Homo sapiens: one gene and its partners. The protein of the gene in region 2 interacts with the protein of the main gene of each other region in a pairwise test. Each region holds a gene or a part of one and is shown on either strand. Other genes may lie near its edges.

Evidence for each region. The genes of interacting proteins can lie anywhere in the genome.
Region 1: the proteins of PSMF1 (region 2) and PAK5 interact in binary tests that used the Homo sapiens proteins (3 or more experiments, as listed by UniProt).
Region 3: the proteins of PSMF1 (region 2) and BEND7 interact in a two-hybrid assay, tested with the Homo sapiens proteins (2 studies listed by BioGRID and IntAct).

Annotation. Positions count from the first base shown.
Region 1 is NC_000020.11:9,577,064-9,584,091, reverse strand, and holds part of PAK5 (serine/threonine-protein kinase PAK 5), read left to right. Parts: intron 1-3,161; coding exon 3,162-3,947; intron 3,948-7,028.
Region 2 is NC_000020.11:1,156,588-1,163,615, forward strand, and holds part of PSMF1 (proteasome inhibitor PI31 subunit), read left to right. Parts: intron 1-6,542; coding exon 6,543-6,596; intron 6,597-7,028. UniProt on the Homo sapiens protein: Plays an important role in control of proteasome function. Inhibits the hydrolysis of protein and peptide substrates by the 20S proteasome. Also inhibits the activation of the proteasome by the proteasome regulatory proteins PA700 and PA28.
Region 3 is NC_000010.11:13,498,002-13,505,029, reverse strand, and holds part of BEND7 (BEN domain-containing protein 7), read left to right. Parts: intron 1-1,436; exon of another isoform or gene 1,437-2,169; intron 2,170-4,350; exon of another isoform or gene 4,351-4,520; intron 4,521-4,949; coding exon 4,950-5,252; coding exon of another isoform or gene 5,253-5,291; intron 5,292-7,028.

The DNA.
Region 1 (7,028 bases), 8.4 Mb from region 2:
TCTTTCTTTCTCTAAGGGAGGCTCCAACAGAGCATCCCCTACTTTGGCAATCAATCCATCAATTTATGCACCACCCTCAACAATGACTACATTCCATATAATGAATTCCACACTATGGAATAAAAAAGGAATAGGCAAAAAAAAGACTAGGATATTAGTTTATGAACACTGACTATATTATGCTCAGTGAAAGAAGTCAAGCTGAAAGGCTCCAGACTGTATGATTCCATCCATATGATATTCTGGAATAGACAAAACAATAAGGACAGAAAACAGATCAGTGATATCAAGGGTTTGGGGAGAGGGTAATGTTTGACTAGAGGAAACTCAGGAGATATTTTTGCAGCTGGTGGCACTAATTTGTATGGCACTCTAACAGTGAATACATGATGCTTTGCACTTGTCAATACCCATAGAGCTTTGCAGCACAAAGAGTTAATTAATGTACGTAGTTTCAAAAAACAACAAAAAATAAACCAGAAGATCAGAGGATCCTGGGATAGAATGCAGAATGTGACCAAAGAATCCAACAGCTATACATTTATAACATAACCTCATTGAAGGGGGTGCAGGAAAAAAGACACTAACTTAAGGAACTTTGGAAACAGTGCTTTGAATGCAAACTATAAGTGTAAAGGAATTTTAAAGAACTGGACTTAAACATGGTACTTGAGTTGACAAAGTTGTTTCTCATGGTAGAGTGAGTTAATCTGAAACTGCTGAACAGTTATACTAGCACTGAATAGGCAAATGACTGGCAGATGGTGGGGCCCATGTTTTTTACTGTTGCAGAGGAAGTTACAGGTAAGGAAATGGCAAGAATGAATTATGTGGTACTTGATTAGATTCAGAGACATTAATGTGGATTTATGTTTAGGTTAATATAGATACAGATGGATGGATATAATTATAGGTGTGTGAGTGTGTTCATGAGTTAGTCTACAAACATATTATTTCGGAGCTCTGTTTGCTGAGGCCTGGCAATGACACCCAGTAGCAATGAGTATTCCTGGAACCAAATCTTAATTTCTAATACTATTAGCGTTCCTTGGAGAAATGCCTGATTTGGGGGGAAGGGCAGGGAAAATAAAAGATAAACCTGGAGCTTCTTGTAGGGACAGAAAGTAAGGAAGTGCTCAAAAAATAAAAGGAAGAGGGATCATCAAAGGGACACAGCAGCCAGCCTGAGAGAACTCCCAGTGACAAAAGCTGGAACCATTTGAGCAACAAGGCAAATAACAGAGTGTTGGCTTATAACCCAAAGTATAAAATAAATAACCATAAGTCCATCCATCCTTATATATAAATAAATGATTGAATGAGTAGGTAAATGGGAGCAAATAAGCAAGTCTCCTGTGCAGAAGAATTCCAACTACTTTATATAGATACCCTACCCCCACCACACACACACACCCAAGAAGATAAAGCTTAAATCCCTGACCCTTGAGTAGACGCTACACTTACTGACTTGTTCCCAAAGAATACAATATACAGAAAGCTAGGGAAGGGGAGTGTGACTGTGTGTATAAGAAACCTGGAAAATATGACCTCACCCAGGTAGTCAGGGCTAACATCATCATTCCTAAGTCGTGTCGACGATATGTACCCTAAACATTATGCGATGAAATGTGACTTGACTCTCTGATCTTCCTCCTCAAACCAAATAACCTCTGTTTAAACATGGGAAAAACACCAGAAAACCCCAATGGAGGAACATTCTCCAAAATACCTCACCAGTACTCCTCAAAACTGTCAAGGTCATCAAAAAATAAGGAAAATCTGAGAAACTGTCACAGATCAGAGGAAACTCGGAAGATATAACAAATAAATGTAATGAACTATCCTGGATGGGACTCTAGAACCCTAGGAGAAAATTAATGAAATCTATAGGAACATGGAGTTTCCTTAATAGCAATGCAAGATATTAACTCAAGGGGAAACTGGATGAGAAGTCTATGAGAACTCTGTATTCTCTTTGCAACTTCTCTGTTAATCTAAAACTATTCTAGAATAAAAATTTTATTTGAAAGAAAAGGGTATAGTACAAAACTATTAGTCCAGGACTCTTGGAAAGAAAAAAAATAAACCCTTTGTTTCACCATGGATAGATCTATAAAACATCAGCTCCAGGACAACTTTGACTTCTTCCTCCAGTTTGAAATCTTCTATTGTACCATCCAAGATAGTTTTGAACTCCTTGCTACTTGCTCAAAAGTATTTTTCTCCTAAAATCCTGGAAGTCTGAAGTCACAACACTTTGTTCTTTGTTCTTTTATCCACCCCCATCATATTTGCCTGCAAATCCTGTCATTGTCAAGGCACGGCTGACGGGCTTTGTAAGTGGTTTGCGATGTCTTTCAGTTCCTGGTATTCTTGTGTTATTTAGGTTCATTAAAGGGAACAATTTGTCACTAAGATCCAGGTGCAACCATCATTACTAAGCCATCCAAAATTCAGCGGTGATGTTACACAGAAGTGTGGCCATAACAAACAAGCAGTATAGTATAAGTATATATACTTAATAAGAATATCACATTTGATCATAAATCACACAAATAATCTTCAGTCTGTTTCCTAATTACAGTTTCAGGAAGTGCCTGCCTCATCCATAAAATTTCATAACCTCAGTTATTATGTCTTCCATATAAGGGCAAAAAATGTACACCCATTTCTAGTTATGTTAATAGTTGGGTGATAATGCCTTCTGGTTTTGAAAATCATCTGAATAATGAATGTAAAACAGTAATAAATATTATTTTTTATTACCAAACAGTTATAGAGTGTTAAATTATAATTATCAGCTCATCATTAGGTGGTTAGGGCTTATTATTTAGGTAGAAGAAGTAGGGGGAAGGGATTTGCCTGTAAACTGGTAAATAAAACAGTTATATTCTATGTAGTCTCCTACATGGCTTTTTGATGGTTATTTGATGTCTCTGTTGAGATAGGTAAGAAGAAAAATGCAATTTGAGATTGTTTACTATTTGATTTATTTCACCACTGAAGTCAATCAACACATTTTCTTTATCATTTTGTGTTAAGTGTTCCCGGGGTCTTTTTTCTTCTGTAGTTTAATTTGGATGGAGTGGGGGTGGGATGCCACCATCAATTTAAATCCATGAAATATTTTCTTTAAACAATATTCCCTCTATTATTCCCAGACAATCGTTAGAGGAAACAAACCCTGCAAGGAAACCTCCATCAACGGCCTGCTAGAGGATTTTGACAACATCTCGGTGACTCGCTCCAACTCCCTAAGGAAAGAAAGCCCACCCACCCCAGATCAGGGAGCCTCCAGCCACGGTCCAGGCCACGCGGAAGAAAATGGCTTCATCACCTTCTCCCAGTATTCCAGCGAATCCGATACTACTGCTGACTACACGACCGAAAAGTACAGGGAGAAGAGTCTCTATGGAGATGATCTGGATCCGTATTATAGAGGCAGCCACGCAGCCAAGCAAAATGGGCACGTAATGAAAATGAAGCACGGGGAGGCCTACTATTCTGAGGTGAAGCCTTTGAAATCCGATTTTGCCAGATTTTCTGCCGATTATCACTCACATTTGGACTCACTGAGCAAACCAAGTGAATACAGTGACCTCAAGTGGGAGTATCAGAGAGCCTCGAGTAGCTCCCCTCTGGATTATTCATTCCAATTCACACCTTCTAGAACTGCAGGGACCAGCGGGTGCTCCAAGGAGAGCCTGGCGTACAGTGAAAGTGAATGGGGACCCAGCCTGGATGACTATGACAGGAGGCCAAAGTCTTCGTACCTGAATCAGACAAGCCCTCAGCCCACCATGCGGCAGAGGTCCAGGTCAGGCTCGGGACTCCAGGAACCGATGATGCCATTTGGAGCAAGTGCATTTAAAACCCATCCCCAAGGACACTCCTACAACTCCTACACCTACCCTCGCTTGTCCGAGCCCACAATGTGCATTCCAAAGGTAACGTTTGCTACCTCCTTTCCCTCACGTGTGCAAAAACCTCCACAGGGGTGGTGCTGGCACGACCTTTTTATACGATTGGATTGTAAAGTACTTGTTTGCCTTTTAAGGGAAAATCAATATCAAAACCCACCCTATCTCCACTTGTGAGGCCCCAGGGCAGAGGTTTAGGATAAGGCATATATATTCATTAAAATAAAAATCTATCTTTTGGGCCCTCCTACGTGGTTTCTCATTAAAAGGCGAATAAACTTATTGATTTGAAAGATAGAATTCTGATATATGAGTGATAAATATGATGTGACTGTATTTGACTAAGTTCCCTGTTAAGGAGTGGATCAGTCATATACAATCATAGAGCATTAGATCGAGCCATCCAGTGGTTCCTACATCCTGGCAAAGTTTGCATAGACCTGCTAAAAAGGAAAGAAACTCAGTATAACATGGTAATTTTTAAATAAAGCCAATTTTGTTCAACTCAGGGGATGGCCCTTCATATTAAGAGTATGTACTTTCTACTATATTTGATTTGAAATATTGGTTTTTATATGAAATTTGGGGGTGACAGATGGTTGCTGGACCGCTGGACCATTTTTGTCCCCTTTTCACTTTGTTTTGTAGTAATTCCTCTTTTAAATTTTGTTTAAATGTTAGCAGCTCCAAGTTTGCTTTGAAATTTGACTGGTCTATGATATCCTAAAGTTTGGGAATCACTGCCGGAGAAGTTACTGAAACTAAAAGCACAGGCAAAGGTCTATGGGTCCGAAGGTCTAAAGTCTTGGAAAATACCTTTGAGAATGTGCAAGTGATTTATTTTTCCCTGTCATTTAGAAATGTTTTTGCTACCTTACCTGTCCAGCAAAAGAACATGGACCGTAGGGTGTGGAATGTGGATTACATAGAGGTCTTGAAGCAGGTGAGAGGGACATGACTTCTCACAGGGCAGTCATGTACTTTATTTATACCAAACTCTTGACAGTTTGGTGAGCAGCACAGAAAACTCTGGAACCCAAGCCTGCCTGCATTCACCTGATTTATTGATTATAGATAGTCGATATTTTTCCTTTGCTTCTTATTTCTCATTAACCTCATCCAAGATGTTGAAGAGAAGCCATTTAAGTGTATTGTTGGAGTTACTTCAGCCATTCTTTAGAAGAAACAAAAAAGCTGTCACCTTAGTTCCCAGGATATAAAATTAAAAACAAATCTTGATAAATAGAGGCCTGAGATATGTTCCTCCAGTTAAAATTCACATAGTGACAGTGTTTTTTTTTTATCTCGTGGTATTAATGTACTTGAACACCCACACTCAGGATATCATGACTGCTTTCTCTTCCTGTGTGCTTGCCAGGGTGACTGTTGGAAAGAGGTCTAATTAACCACAAGCAAAATCTACTTGAACTCATACGCATGTCTCATGATACATGAGATAGTTTATTCCATTTCTTGTGCATATCACTTGTGCATTTCTGTGAGTGATATGAAATAAATAAGTTAACATGTTCTATAGCTGAATTGAGTTACATCCTGAGGCTTTGAATATCAGTGGTTATTTTTTTATCTAAGATTTTGTGTGCGTGTGGCTTATTTGCATATTTGTGTTAGGGAGTTGTTTGGGGTCATAGTTACAGAGAAAACATTGCCCAGATGATGCTGCATTTTGGTCCTGGAGCCTTATTTGGCTCTTCCTGGATGTTGGAAATGAATATTGGGTGGGCTACACATGTCTATAGTCCAAATAGTTTTAGAGGTCAAGAGTTTTAGAACTCTTAATTCTGGAGTTTCAGTCTTCTCTCTTTTTTATTTTTATTTTTTTAAAAAGGATGAACTGGTATCCCTGAGTCCACATTTTCACATAGCATGGGCTTTTGGGATTTAATGTCACCACCAGCAATCCCTGCACACTCATTTCCTAGAAGGGGAAACTGAGGCCCAGAGAGCCACATGACACACTTACAGTTTCATAATTAGTTGGTTGCAAAACAAGGACAAGAACTCAAGTCTGGTGTTTCTCCCTGCTCAATATTTTCCTATTATTTGGGCGTATGTTATCTCGGGGACTCAACTGCATTTGCCAAGAAAATCCATGAGAAGTCCCAGTGGCCACCAGAACTTTCGTCTAAGTGACAGAAGAACGAGGGTGGGAGGGGTGATTCACTTTAATTCCCTACAGGCTCCCTCTATTCTGCAGACTTCCAAATATAAGACAAAGCAGACCTGCCCTGAAATCTGGCTCTGCCAGCCCAGAAACAATGCACAAACTATTGTGGCTCACCACCACCAACAACAACAACAAAAACAGCATAATCACTCATGGGAACTTCTACCAAGGGTGTTCAGCCCTTACGATCAGAAATACAAAGAAGCAAGCTGCTGCTCCATGTTTCACAGGAAACTCGTGAGAGATTCATGAGCAGGTTTTTGTTTTGTGGGAGGATAAGAGGTGGGAGGCAGGTTAGTAATTAAAACGTTCACTTGATTAAAAATACAACATTTCTCTGAAAAGACGGAGGTGCCTGTGTCTTTAGAACGGTACTCTTAGAGTGTACCAATCACATTTGGATTTCCAGCTGAGGGAAGAAATAGCGGTCACGACTCAGATGAGTCGGCCTTGCTTGCAGAGACTCCTAAAGGAGGCTGGGTCATGTTTTCATCTCCAGTAATAAAAGGAAGCACAAAACTTGTGTAGGTCTCCAGATGAAGCAGAAATGAGGAGGGTCATGTGTGTGTACACATGTGTGTGTGTACACACGTGTGTGTGTTTGACACAGTTTTACATTTTGTCCTAAAGAAAAAAAAAGATTAATGTTAACCCACAGAAAAAAAAAATCCTTCAATGTTATCTACCTACTTAATTTCCCTGCTAGCAGGACAGGAATCAAGAATGTTATGAGTTTGTTGATGTTGGCCTCCTCTCCCTACATTTAAGTGTATTTTGCTGGAACTAAGCAGATGAAACCCTGGGGTTGGGAGGGTGGGAAGCAAAGCCAAACAAAAACCATATAGCACCATACCCACCACAAAATTATGAAAACTGCCAGATGTGGAGAGAGAATGCTTTCCACCCTCGCCTGCAGACAA
Region 2 (7,028 bases):
AGAAAGAAGAACAGCATTCTTAAAGTATGGAGAGAAAAAGAATTGTCAACCCAGAATTCTATATCCAGTGAATATTTCACCTTCATTTCTAAAGGATATTAAGATATTATTAAGAATATCTTAACAAAGAAACTAAGAGAATTCATAGTCAATAGATCTTCTCAAAAGGAGTTTTAAAAGGAAGTTCCTCAGACAGAATGGAGATGATACCAGATGGAAACTTCAAACATCAGGTATAAAAGAAGAGTGGTAGAAATGGTAAATATGTGGGTAAATATAATGGACAGTTCTCTAAAATAGGTTTCATAGTTTTATTAGTGTTCTCTTAGAGGGACAGAACTAATAGGCTATATCTACATACATATGTATTGGGGAGTTTATTAAGTATTAACTTATACGATCACAAGGTCCCACAATAGGCTGTCGGCAAGCTAAGGAGCAAGGAGAGCCGGTCTGAGTCCCAAAACTGAAGAACTTGGAGTCCGATGTTCAAGGACAGGAAGCATGCAACACAGGAGAAAGATGTAGGCTGGGAAGCTAGGCCAGTCATGTCCTTTTCATGTTTTTCTGCCTGCTTTATATTCTCTGGCAGCTAATTAGATTGTGCCCACGAGATTAAGGGTGGATATGCCTTCTCCAGCCCACTGACTCAAATGTTCATCTCTTGGCAACACCCTCACAGACACACCCAGGATCAATATTTTGTATCCTTCAATCCAATCAAGTTGGCACTCAGTATTAACCATCACATGTCTACCCCTTGTCAACTTGAACTGATACACATCTCCTGAGATCATACATAATCTTCAAATAAAGCCAAAATAAGGTCATAATTACGCCTAACATAATACAACTATCCTTCGTACAACTAGAAACTCACCAATCCCCAACCCAAATACTATTACATAAAGTTAACAATACTTAAATGCTGATACAAAGTCAGTAAACCTTATGTCACATGATAAAGGAGAAAGGAAATAAAATGAAGATGCTTTCTTAATTAAGTGTATGCATGCACAAACATGTTTTTAACAAAAGGAGGAAATACTCATGACAATTACAGTCCTCGTTTCTGCAGCTGGTCACGTGGTCGTAGCTGGTATTGATGATTGCCTTCTACTACTACCCATTCTGTATTCCCTTTGCCTTCAGTAAGCACCTCAGCAGGTCGTTTTTTTTTTTTCCTGGTGGAGTGACCCAAAAAGGGTCACTTCATTCCTGAAGGGTCTGGATCATTTGTAGTCCTGCCTGGATTGGGCTGTTGTAGTTTCTCATTGATCTTAATCACAGGGCATGGTAATACTAAGAGATGCCTTAATGGATCTCCTGTATTCCATGCATACTCTTCCTTACCTCCGTTCTAGAGTAGTAGACTGATTTCATCTTGATAGTCTGGGTCAGTCACCCCAGCCAACATTGTAACTCCCTTCTCAGCCTGTTGACTTAAAGGTAGAGGAGCCCAAAGTATCAAGTGGCAATCTTAACTTCCAGTTTAATGGAATTATTGTGTCTCCTGGTGGCAGCGTTCCTCCCTCTGGAACTAAGACCTCTAGGCCAGCAGAACGCAATGTCATGGGAATAGGAAGCAAAAATTTTGCTAGTGGATGTCAATCTTTTAAAAACTAAATTAAAAAAAAACTAAACAAATTGTAGCACAGCATCTGACACAAAGCAAACTCTCAGTAAATCGCAGCAGCTGCTGTTATTACATTCTTCCAGGTCTTTCCTTTAACAAATCTGTTCACCTGCAATGCTACATTTTATCATTATGGCAGGCCCTGTGGGTGTTACTACTTAGATTTTACATCTTAAAGACTGAAGTGCAGAAGTTTCATGGCAGACCCCTGCCAACCAGCTGGAAAATTCCCAACCCAATGTCCAGAGCGCATCTCTGACTCCCAGTCCTGAGGCCTTTCCAGTTCACCAGACCACCTCAGCCATTAGAAGGGTGTCAGCTGGATTTGTGTGCCCAACGAGGTGTGTTGCTTTTATGTAAAAGAGAAGCACATAAGGAAGAAATCATGAGTGTTCAGGATCCCTTTCCAGTCCCTTAAAGAGGCTGCTTTTGCAGTAGCGACATACTACCCAGTGAGCTCAGCCATGCAGTTTTTCCTGCAGGGTTAGAGTGGATCACTTCCTTCAGTTGATCACCATTTGAAGTAGCAGGGGTTTGAGTTCAGAGGCCATGTACGAAAATGATTTTAAAAATACCTGGAGCCTCATTTAGCACATGCAAGACTGAGACTCAGCCAAGGGGGCTATCTAGAGAAGGACGGAACCCCCTCCCTCTGTACTATTTACTCTGAGTTCATAAAAAAATTAGCCAGGCGTGGTGGCGCATGCCTGTAATCCTAGCTACTTAGGAGGCTGAGGCAGGAGAATTGCTTGAACCTGGGAGGCAGAGGTTGCAGTGAGCTGAGATTGTGCCACTGTACTCCAGCCTGGGCAACAGAGTGAGACTCCGTCTCACAAAAAAAAAAAAAAGAAGAAGTAAATGGGTTCTAAGTGTGTAAATAATGAGGTCACAGAAGTCTTCATGTGTTGCAGTGAGTCTTTGTTGAATATGAGCCAACTGAATATGTTGTTACAGTTTCTAGTACCTTTTTAAAAATTTTTTATATTTTTCCTTAATAATAGAGATGGGGGTCTCATTATGTTGCCCAGGGTAGTCTCGAACTCCTGGACTCAAGCAATCCTCCCACCTCGACCTCCCAAAGTGCTTGGATTACAGGCATGAACTACTGCACTTGGCCTTTAGAGACATGGTTTTGCTATGCTGGCCAGGCTGGTCTCGAACTCCTGGCCTCAAGTGATTTGCCCACCTCAGGCCTCCCAAAGTGCTGCGATTACAGGCATGAGCCACCGTGCCTGGCCTGCAACTGCCTTTCTAGCCTTTCTTGTTCTCTTGTTTCTTCTCTCTTCCCCACATTTCGTGGGCCAGAGAGAAAAATAGAGATGGTTGCATATTTCAGAGCAATCTTTATTCCCAAGCATTTTATCAGCCACTAGAAGCCCCCTATGTTTGCCACTCTGGGCGGGGGGGCACTTCATGGAGTCAGGTAAGATGCTTACTGCCCTCTGGCACCACCTGGTCTGCCTCTAGTTAGGCAGGATGTTGGAGGCTGCTAGAAACTTTGACTGCTAGCTCCATGAACTGTGGCTTGGGAGCAGTAACCTAGGTCAGGAAAAATTCCTTCCCTAGGAAACCTGGCCTTGTCCATTTAAATCACAGTATCCTGCGATTCCAGCCCATCAGGTGGAACTGACTGGAGGAGCACCTACTTTTGGATTTTTTCCCGGTTCTCTAATTAATGGCTTCTTACCTGTAAGCTTAGATTAGCTGCTGTTTATAAGGCTTTCCCAAGGTCTGGCAGGAACGTGCCAGTGCCCCAGAACTATCAGGTTTGTATTGCTTGCCAGGGCTCTGCGAAGATTCCAAAGCACATCTTTCAAAATACTAAATATTTGTGTTGTATTATATCCATATCCCTATGCATTACGGAAAAAACAGGAAAGTATAAAGAAAGCCCTCACCACCCAGGAGTGACTGTCACTGTTTACGCTCTCGGTACGCTTCTTTCTGGTTGTAATTATACATACCACCACCACTACCCTGCATACACACGTTTTTCACCGTTGATTTCCCTAGGCTATTGATGACCCCCTTTCCCCTCAGTACTTAACACTAGAGCATGAGCATTTCTCCACATCATTTTTAAAACATTCCCAGAACATGGTTTTTATTGCTTCCATGGCTGCACTTGGGGACCTGCCATGATGTTCCTAACTGGTCTTCATTCAGGCTGACTGCAGTTTCCTTGATTAATGTCTTTGTGAGTATATTTTAATTTAAATTCTTTATTTAAAATGAATACCTAGACATAAAATTATCAGATCAAAGAATAGAGAGATATATAAGAGGGTCTCACTCACTACTGCTGGCCTGTGCTCCATGTCTTCCCACCGCTCTGCCGCCCAGCTCCTCCACCGATCACAATGGAAGAAGAGATCACCATACTCGTCATTGACAATGGCTCCAGCATGTGCAAAGCTGGTTTTGCTGGGGACGACGCCCCTGGAACCATGTTTCCCTCCACTGTCAGGTGCCCCCAACACCAGGGCATGATGGTGGGGATGGGCCAGAAGGTCTTCTACCTGGGCGACAAGGCCCAGAGCAAGCACGGCATCCTGACGATGAAGTACCCCATCGAGCACAGGATTTTCACCAGCTGGGAAGGCATGGAGAAGATCTGGCACCACACCCTACAACAAGCTGCATGTGTTCCTGGAGGAGCACCTGGTGCTGCTGACTGAGGGCCCCCTGAACCCCAAGGCCAACAGAAAGAAGATGGCTCAGATCATGTTTGAGACCTTCAATACCCTGGACATGTACGTGGCAGTCCAGGCCATACTTCTATGCCTCTGGGCGCACCACTGGCATTGTCATGGATTCTGGAGACGGAGTCACACACACGGTGCCCATCTACAAGGGCTATGCCCTCCCCACGCCATCCTGCGTCTGGACCTGGCTGGCCAGGACCTGACCACCTCATGAAGATTCTCACAGAGTACGACTACAGCTTCCCTACCACAGCCAAGCGGGAGATCATGCGTGACATCAAGGAGAAGCAGTGCTGCGTCGCCCCGGACTTTGAGCAGGAGATGGCCACCGCTATGTCATCCTTCTCCCTGGAGAAAAGCTACAAACTGCCTGACAGCCAGGTGATCACCATTGGCAACATGCAGTTCCAGTGTTTGGAGGTGTTGTTCCAGCCCTTCTTTCTGGGTGTGGAATTTTGCAGCATCCATGAGACCACCTTCAGCTCTATCATAAGGTGTGATGTGGGCATCCACAAGGACCTGTATGCCAACACGGTGCTGGCCAGTGGCACCACCATGTACCCAAGCATCTCCAACAGGATGCAGAAAGAGATCACTGCCCTGGTGCCAGCACAAGGAAGATCAAGATCATCGTGCTCCCAGAGCGCAAGTACTCCGTGTGGATCAGCAGCTCCATCCTGGCCTCATTGTCCACCTTCCAGCAGATGTGGATTAGCAAGCAGGAGTATGACAAGTCGGGCCCCTCCATGTCCACCACAAATGCTTCTAAATGGACTACAAGCAGATGTGTAGCATTTGCTGCATAGGATAATTCACACGTATAAATTTGCCCCTGACAAATGTATACACCTCATGCCAGCCTCACAAAACTGGAATAAGCTTTTGGAAAGAAATTTGTCCTTGAAGCTTGTGTCTGATATCAGCAGTGGATTGTAGAACTTGTTGCTGATTTTGACCTTGTATTCAAGTTAACTGTTCTCTTGGTATTTGTTTAATACTCTACATATCTTTGATTTCAGCCCTTAAGTGCATGTGGTTTGGTCACTTCATGGCTGAGGTGAAGAACATGCTTGTGGAAGACAAGTCTATGGCTTGGGGGGTCTGTGTGGCTGGCAGTCTCCCACTGGTGCAGGGTATTCATGTGTCAGGGCTGAGTATTCTGGGATTTCTCTAGAGGCTGGCAAGGGCTCCTGAACCAGTTGTCATTTCTGTCTTGCCTGTAGGACCCAGTTTCCTTTCTTAGCTGATGTTTTCCTGCCAGAACACCATGGGCTGTTACTTGTCTTGAGTTGGAAGCGGTTTGCATTTACACCTGTAAATTTATTCATCCTTTTCATTTATGTAAGGTTTTTTTGGTATGCAATTCTTGAGTCTTTAAGAGATGACAACAAATTTTGTTTTTTTTCACTGTTATGTGAGAGCATTAGGCCTAGCAGCACATCATTGTGTAAGAAAAAATAAAAGTGCTGCCATTTAAAAAAAAGACATATAAGACTTTTGAAGGACTGTGTATTTTTGTGTCTGTCTATATCTATATATATTACAGAGATAATATAGAATTACTCTCCAGAAAGCATGCAGTCATTTATGTGCCTTCTAGCTCATGCATTCTCCATGAAGGCAGAAATCGGCTATTAGGGTTGGGGGCAGTCCTAGAGATTACAGTGGTTTGTGGCCCTCCTGCAGGTACAGTGCATAAACAGATACACAGTACATCTGTAGTACTAAAATTTTATACAGGGGCTATATTGACAAAAAGGTTGAGAAGTACTGTTCTAGCTGTATGTGACTCCATACATCTGTCTCCACCTTGGAAGCTTTCAAATCTTAGCTTTGGGATTTTGGTTTTGGGTTTAAGAATAATATTTTTCTGACGTAAAACTTCTTGGTTCATTATACAAAGTTGAAGAAACTGAGAAAGTTGTGAATAAAATTTATCTGGAGGTTACCAATATTAATATTTTAAAATATTAATACTTAATATTTTAATCTATGTTTTTAGGTTTGTGTTCCGCCCTTCTTACATAATTGTCATTGTAGGATTATCATTGTTCATCTGAGCCAAGGACCACCCTGAAATATCCCTTGTGCTATGGTCTCATGCAAGGGTTTCCCATGCCTGTGAGTGTGTTTGTGATCCCACATGTATCAGGTGCCTGGCTGCTCTGGGACTTGCAGTAATTGTCTCTTGTTTGTTTCAGGTGTGATCCCCTGGGCCCGTTTGTTGTCGGGGGAGAAGACTTAGACCCTTTTGGGTGAGTACTGCTGGGGAGGTGGCAGCAACACAACTTGCTTTTGTGGCTTTTCAGCCCCAGCTCATCTTCTAATTTTAGAGTTTTCGGTCAGTCTCTTCCTTTGGGGTGGAGGAGGCAGTTGTTGCTGAGCAGCTGAGAAAGCACTGCCACATACGCTGCCCCTCCACACCTAGAGCGGTGCAGGAGAGCACTGAGTGTTGGCAGGGAGGTGAACAAGCCTAGCAGGCAGCTCTTCTGCCATTTCCCGGTCCCCCTGCCCACCCTAGTTTATCAGATGTATAGTGAGGAGCACATGGTGGGCCTTAGGGCAGCTCAGGGCTATTCAGAGGTTGCCCCACTTAATAAAGGGAGTCTCTGAGCCCCATTAGACTCTGGATGGTTCTTATGCATCCAACAAAGTTACTACAGCCTCTGCTATCCACTGTCTTCCCT
Region 3 (7,028 bases), on a different chromosome or scaffold from region 2:
GTGAATAATCGTGTTCCACGTAGTGGATCCTTCCCTCCTAGCCAAGTTAAGGGCAACCTTGTGTGTTGACTTCTGTGTTGCCCTCACATGTATCAGATCCTGCAAGACTATGTGTCATAAATTCTTTGCGTAAAGGAACGTGATCTAGTAGAGTCTTGAAATTTAGTGAGGGGGAGAATCCAGCATACAATCTTTTTAGATCTTGTCCAAGGAGTATAGTTACTAAACTCCAAAGGATTTCAGGCTGCCAATAAGGTAGTCACGTGGCATGGATCCATTTTAGTAAGATTCCTTTGTGTTTGTTTTTCTGAAAAGGATTCAGCGTCTTGGAAAGAGATCAGGAAAAATGCACAGGTTTCCTTATAGCATCCTGTCTCGCTAGAGAGCTCGTTGCTCCAAAGAGCTTCCTTTTCCTGGTATCTATACCTGGAGAAGTCATTGACTAATGATAACTGGAAATACCAGTAGAAGTCAGTGAATGCTTCCAATCTCAATCTCCTGTATACTTTTCACCAATTTTTTTTTTTATCAAAGAACTTGGATTCCACTATGATAGAAGAAGCCTGTCTTCCGAAAAGGACTTCTAGAGCCACAAAGTGCTTGGTTAACACCTTGGTGATGGTGAAAATCCTGTGCCCCTCCTGGACTACCATGTGCCCCTCCCCGGGTTAGGGTTCAGACTCTTGCTTTAGGATTTAGGAAACCAGAGAATATTCAGTGGCTTGGCTAGTATCCAGTAGCAGGTGGGCGTAGTTAGGAGGCGAGACCAGGTGTGGGTGTAATAGCCCAGCCTGTCCTGTCCCACACTAACACTGCACCACACTCAACGAGCTTCTACGGCTCGGCCTGCTCATCTGCTCCCAGCACCCACTGTCCCCAGATTATTTAGGTTGACTCAGCTTCTTTGTCATTGTCACTTGGAGTCTTCAGGCCTCGTTTCTGATCCTCTGCCCCACCTGCCCCAAATGTGCAAGGAAACCTCTTTCTTCCTGTCTGCCAAAGCCTGTCACTCATCATTCCCTGCTGTGGAGTAGAGCCCCAGGACTCCCTCCTCCTAGGCAGCAGCTGCAGGGGTGACCTGCTCAGCTGCTTCTGCTGCTTTGGGTGAAGAGAGTGTGACTCAGTAAACCCCAGAGACCATTCCTGAACGTCCCGTCATCTCCCCTAAGAAACTTTCCACACTCTGCCCTTCTTCAACCTTCCCTGCCGACTCTCAGCTCACCTCTCAGCTCTCCTCTCAGCACAGACTTCTGCAGTTACTGCAGTTTTCTGTGTTCCATCCTTTTAGTTGTTGTTTGTTTGTTTGTTTGTTTGTTTTGAGATGGAGTCTCACCCTGTTGCCCAGGCTGGAGTGCAGTGGCACAACCTTGGCTCACTGCAACCTCCGCCTCCCAGGTTCAAGTGATTCTCCTGCCTCAGCCTCCGAGTAGCTGGAACTACAGGCGCGCGCTGCCACGCCCAGCTAACTTTTGTGTTTTTAGTAGAGACAGGCTTTCACCATGTTGGCCAGGCTGGTCTCAAATTCCAGATCTCGGGTGATCCACCCACGTCAGCCTCCCAAAGTGCTGGGATTACAGGTGTGAGCCACTGTGCCATCCTTTAAAGGATGTGTTCCATCCTTTAAAACATGCCACAGTGAGCTAGGCCGTGAGCTTACTTCCTCTGAGGAGGGACCTGCTTCTGGCCTTCTGCCCTCTTCCTTTCAGCACTGTTTCTTCCTCCTCAGTCCCCCGACGTCCTGATTTTTTGTGTATTTGTTTCGTTTTGTTTTGCCTTTGGGAGACATGTTTCTGCACACGGCAGGCGCAGCCCACCGCCAGAACCCCTCACACCTGCCACCTTCCTCCCTCATTGCCACCTGCAGCTTAGGATGCTGGTTGTCAAAATGAAAATACAAAGTTATGCAAAACTCAGGTTGTATTTTCAGCCATGTACTTTTCATAGGCATAAGTTCTGGAACTCTGAAACTGAGGTCATGACAAAGCAGATTTGCCCTCAGAAGGTTCCAGAATCCTTGTGACGCCTTCCTGTTGCTAATGGTAGCACTGTATCTATCCTAGCATTATATCTACAGAGCAGAGGCAGGACCTTTGGCAGGAGACACATCCCTTCTCCTGTGATGTGTCAGTTAGTGTAGAGAAGCAAGCTGGCATGGACTTGAGAGCCGGGGTGGGTATCTGCCCCATGTGGCCTGGCTATGGCTGCTCTGTTCAGGGAGCCTGGGGTCAGGGGTGGCGGCCACCAACCTGTGCCAGAGAAGGCTAGTCTCTGCATGGACTTCAGTGCAGGCATACCCGGCCTGATGGGGAGGGCTGTGGGTGGAAACCACACAGAAAAGATGCCTCCTCTTGCTTGAATTGTGGTGTTAACTAGCCGGGAACGTATGTGTCTGGTTGCTGAAATTAATACCGCATTTGCCTGTGGGCTTATCTTTCAGGATTCCTTTGGGACCTCTTCCAGACACACCCTGTTCCGTAGCCTCTCGAGAAAGTAGTAAATTTTGCTGACTCTGCGTTATTGAAATCTCGCTTGGTCGTTCATTCTCATAAAATCTGGAATATGATTTATTGTTTATATATTGTAATTTTCACAGGGGTTTGAAGTAGAAATAGTTTTATCTCAAATTAGAATATTTCTCCTCTCAAGCATATGCCAACAACACATAGCAATATTGTAAATTTGGAAATCTGTGTTATTTCCGTGTTCACTCATGTTCAATTAGACAGAATTAATATATTCTGTAATGTTTTTAGTATCATTTTTAAAAACTAAAGATATTTACTTCAAAATAGTGAACAGTAAATTCAAAATAAACTTCCTTATTTAGTAACATAACACATATATTAATAAGCTAAATATCTAACTGGAAAGCACAAAACGGCTAGGTTATTGTGCAGTTACCAGTTCTACAGAGAAACCTGGCTTATCCTAAGTGCAATCATTATGTTGATCCATATATATATATACATATCCTTATATATACATATATTGATCATTATAATTGATCCTAAGTGCAATCATTATATTGAATGTGCTGTGTGTATTTGTAGGAGCTGTATTTTTCTTAACAGATGCTGTCTGTTAGCCTTTTCTTTATCTTACAGTTTAAATTTCAAGCATTTATTAGAGTAACTGCATGAATGTTTACACACACATACCCTGGCCTAAGATTTTTTTTTTTTTTGAGACAGGGTCTGCCACTATCACCCAGGCTGAAGTGCAGTGGCACAATCTCGGCTCGCTGCAACCTCTGCCTCCGGGGCTCAAGCAGTCCTTCCACCTCAGCCTCCAAGTAGCTGGGACCACAGGCACACACCACCATGCTGGGCTAACTTTTGTACTTTTTGTAGAGACGGGGTTTCTCCATATTGCCCAGGCTGGTCGCAAACTCCTGAGCTCAAATGACCCTCCCATCTCAGCCTCCCGAAGGGCTGGGATTACACGTGTGAGCCACCATGCCCAACAGTGGCCTAAGATTTTATCTTTTGGGTTTGAGAAAAAAAAATTCATTTCTCTTCATCTTTATGAAGATACTGGCTGATGCACAGTTTAAGAAGATAGTGTGTTTGAAATAGCTCCTAACAGATATCAGCATCCTCTGATATTATTATTGATAGAAAATATTTTCTTTTTCTTTTTTTTTTTTTTTTTTTTTGAGATGGAGTTTCACTCTTGTTGCCTAGGCTGGAATGCAATGGTGCCATCTTGGCTCACCACAACTTCTACCTCCTGGGTGAGCCGGGTTCTCCTGGCTCAGCCTTGTGAGTAGCTGGGATTACAGGCATGTGCCACCACGCCTGGCTAATTTTGTATTTTCAGTAGAGACAGGGTTTCTCCATGTTGGTCAGGCTGGTCTCGAACTCCCGACCTCAGGTGATCTACCCGCCTCGGCCTCCCAAAGTGCTGGGATTACAGGCGTGAGCCACTGTGCCCGGCCAAAAAGATTTTCTATCTGTGCAATATTACAGACATCTTTAATATTTATTAAGTACTCCCAGTGCAGTATAGAAGTTCTTTCATTTTAAAAAAATGTCCTGAGACGGGAGAAAAATCTTAAAAAAAGAAGTCAGTGTAGGTGAAGTGGGATTTCAAAGTGGCCTGTGACCTTTCGCACACAGTTACGCTGCAGGGGAGGTGGCAGTGCGTTTGGCATGGGAGGAGGGCACGGTGGGGAGGTTGCACTTCCGCCCTTCCAGTGCTGGTACCGCCAGTGACCTCGAGTGGCAGGGACCCCTCGGTCATCACCAGGCTGATGTGATGGGAGTCAGAGTGCCAGAAAGACAAAACCCCCTCGCTTGCCATGCTGCCACACTCGGCGCCTCTCTGTCTCCTCGGCCGTCCTCTCTGAAGGTGATGTCTCCAGCGGCAGCGTGTCATCCTGGAGGACATTGTGTCAGCAGTGAAGCCCTGCATCCCTGCCAGTCATCCTGAAGGACATTGTGTCAGTAGTGAAGCCCTGCGTCCCTGCCAGTCCAGGCTTTCTTCCTTGTCCTTGCCCCGCCTGGTGAAGCTGACAGACAGTGAGCAGAGCGCTTTAGTGACCTGCCCATTCCTCACGGGTGGCTGTGGCCCATCAGAGCAGAGGGGTTCCGCGGTCCAGTTCTATCCTTGACCTTCTGTCTCAGCCTGTTTCCTCATCACCTACTCATTCAGAAAATGCTTCCAAAGAGGGAATGTCATGTTTGTTCCTGATGACACACTCTCAAGAAACCTCTTTCATCATAAGCGACTTGCAGAAAGAGATTAAAATGAGAGGCACCAGGAATAGGATGGGTTTTTTCAGACCGTAGTCAGTTTTCCTGCCTTTGCGTTTTACAGATTAAGTTCATAGAGTCAGTCATCTTTCCCATTTCCAAAGAAGGGTTGTTTTTCTTTCTCTTCTTTTTGGTTAGTGAACTGTTTTCTCTTTCACTAATTTAGAGTGCTAACTTTGGCCCTGTTTCCATTAGGAGATGAAAGCATGGAAATAAAAAAGCAAATTACAGGGATGAGAAGATTGCTGAACGACAGCACTGGGCGGATCTATCAGCGAGTTGGCAAAGAAGGAGAGAAACTAAAAGAAGAGCCCCAGGACCTGGATTTAGTCTGGCCTCCACGTTTGAACTCCTCTGCTGAGGCCCCGCAAAGCCTCCACCCGTCTTCACGTGGTGTGTGGAATGAGCTACCGCCCCAGAGTGGACAGTTCTCAGGGCAGTATGGCACCCGTTCTAGAACCTTCCAAAGCCAGCCCCACCCTACCACGAGCTCCAATGGTATGGTTGTCAACAAACATTCAGAAGGCTCTCATGGGGGTTTGTACTGTTCTATTTCTAAATATTCAGTGTGTTGAGTTCAATTTATTAAACCCTCCCATAATTACCTGCCTTTGCTGAGTTACTTTAAAAGACAGGGAGACACAAAGGAAAGAGTTGAAGACTATTAAAAAACAGAATTGAGAATTAGGAAAGACAGGGGGTTCTATGTTATAAGTGAAGATTTCCTGGTAGAGATTTTAGCCCTTTAAGAGGTTAAAGCGATCATTTTGTGCCCATGTATGGATATTATTGTCACAAAAAAAACCTGAACATTAGGGCAGAAAGAGCTCCCCACTGTCTTTAAAAGAAGCTTCCTGGTCCTATGGTGTGTTACTAACATATCCTCTTGGTTACTCCTTCACCTTACTCATTATCAGAAGAGTCCCAGATAAAGGCGGGGGCGGACAGGGGTGGGGGGCCGATAACCCAGCATCCCACGTCAGTACTGAACCCAGTGATCCATATTTTGTAACATGCTTCATTAGCAATGGAAAGTATTCCTTTAAAGTAAAATTTTCTTAATTTAAGTTTCCTAATTGTTAAGAAAAGAATCAAATGACAATTTTTTTTCAAAGCTTAAGGAGAAAAACCTGATGCTTTTTGTGGTCATATTAGTTTTCTATCCGGCCACACTGGATGCTATAATATTTGTTCTATAAACTCTGTAGAGATGTGCAGATCTATAGTTTTCACAAAGAGAACAAGAAAAAGGTAAGAAAGCATTTTCAGTTTCCTTAAGAAGTTAAGGATTTTTTTCCATTCATTTTCATTTCACAATATCCTTCAAGAAAAAGAGAACTGTTTTGACTTTTTTTAAAAACACAATTTGTGGTTCAGAGGCATGAAAAGCCATCCTGAGACATTGATGAGACAGCGAAGGACCCCAGAAATGTATGGGTGTCTTCTCTGCCTCTCAGTAGTACATAAGCCAGTATCAAAGTTCCAATGCTGGCATGCCTCCAGGTTAGAGGGACACAGCTCTTTAAAGACTCCTCCATAAAAATAAAAAGTCAGTTCTCTTTAAAATTAGAAAATGATTTATAACAAGCTGAAAAGGGTTGGTTTTGTCTTCTAAAAATGATAAAAGATGGTACTTAGAATAGTGACTAGAAATATTCTTTAAGACCTTTCTAACTCTACTACCATGGAAGAGACAATAAGAGAAATAAAATACCCTTAGGTATGTATGAAGTTAATAAACCCCACATCAGTAAGTTTTGGGTGAACAGTGTTCTGTTTCCCAGTATACAGTAGGGACAGTGGATTTACTTTGAAAAGTATGAAGTTAGTAAAAGTTACAAACATAAATTCCCCCATATCAGTTTGAAAATAGATATTTTATGTTTTCAATAGAAATATGGCTAGGCGTGGTGGCTCGTGCCTGTAGTCCTAACGCTTTGGGAGGCCGAGATGAGTGGATTGCTTGAGGCCAGGAGTTCGAGACCAGCCTGGCCAACATGGCGAAACCCCATCACTACTAAAAAATACAAAAATTAGCCGGGCGTGGTAGCGCATGCATGTAGTCCCAGCTACTTGGGGGGCTGAGGCATGAGAAGCGCTTGAGCCTGGGAGGCAGGGGTTGCAGTGAACCAAGATCATACCAGTGCACTCCAGCCTGTGCAGCAGAGCGAGACCCTGTCTCAAAAAAAAAAAAAAAAAAAAAAGAAAAAGAAATATATTACATATAACTGTGACTACTTTGGTATTTCATTGGGATTATTTATAATTTTAAAG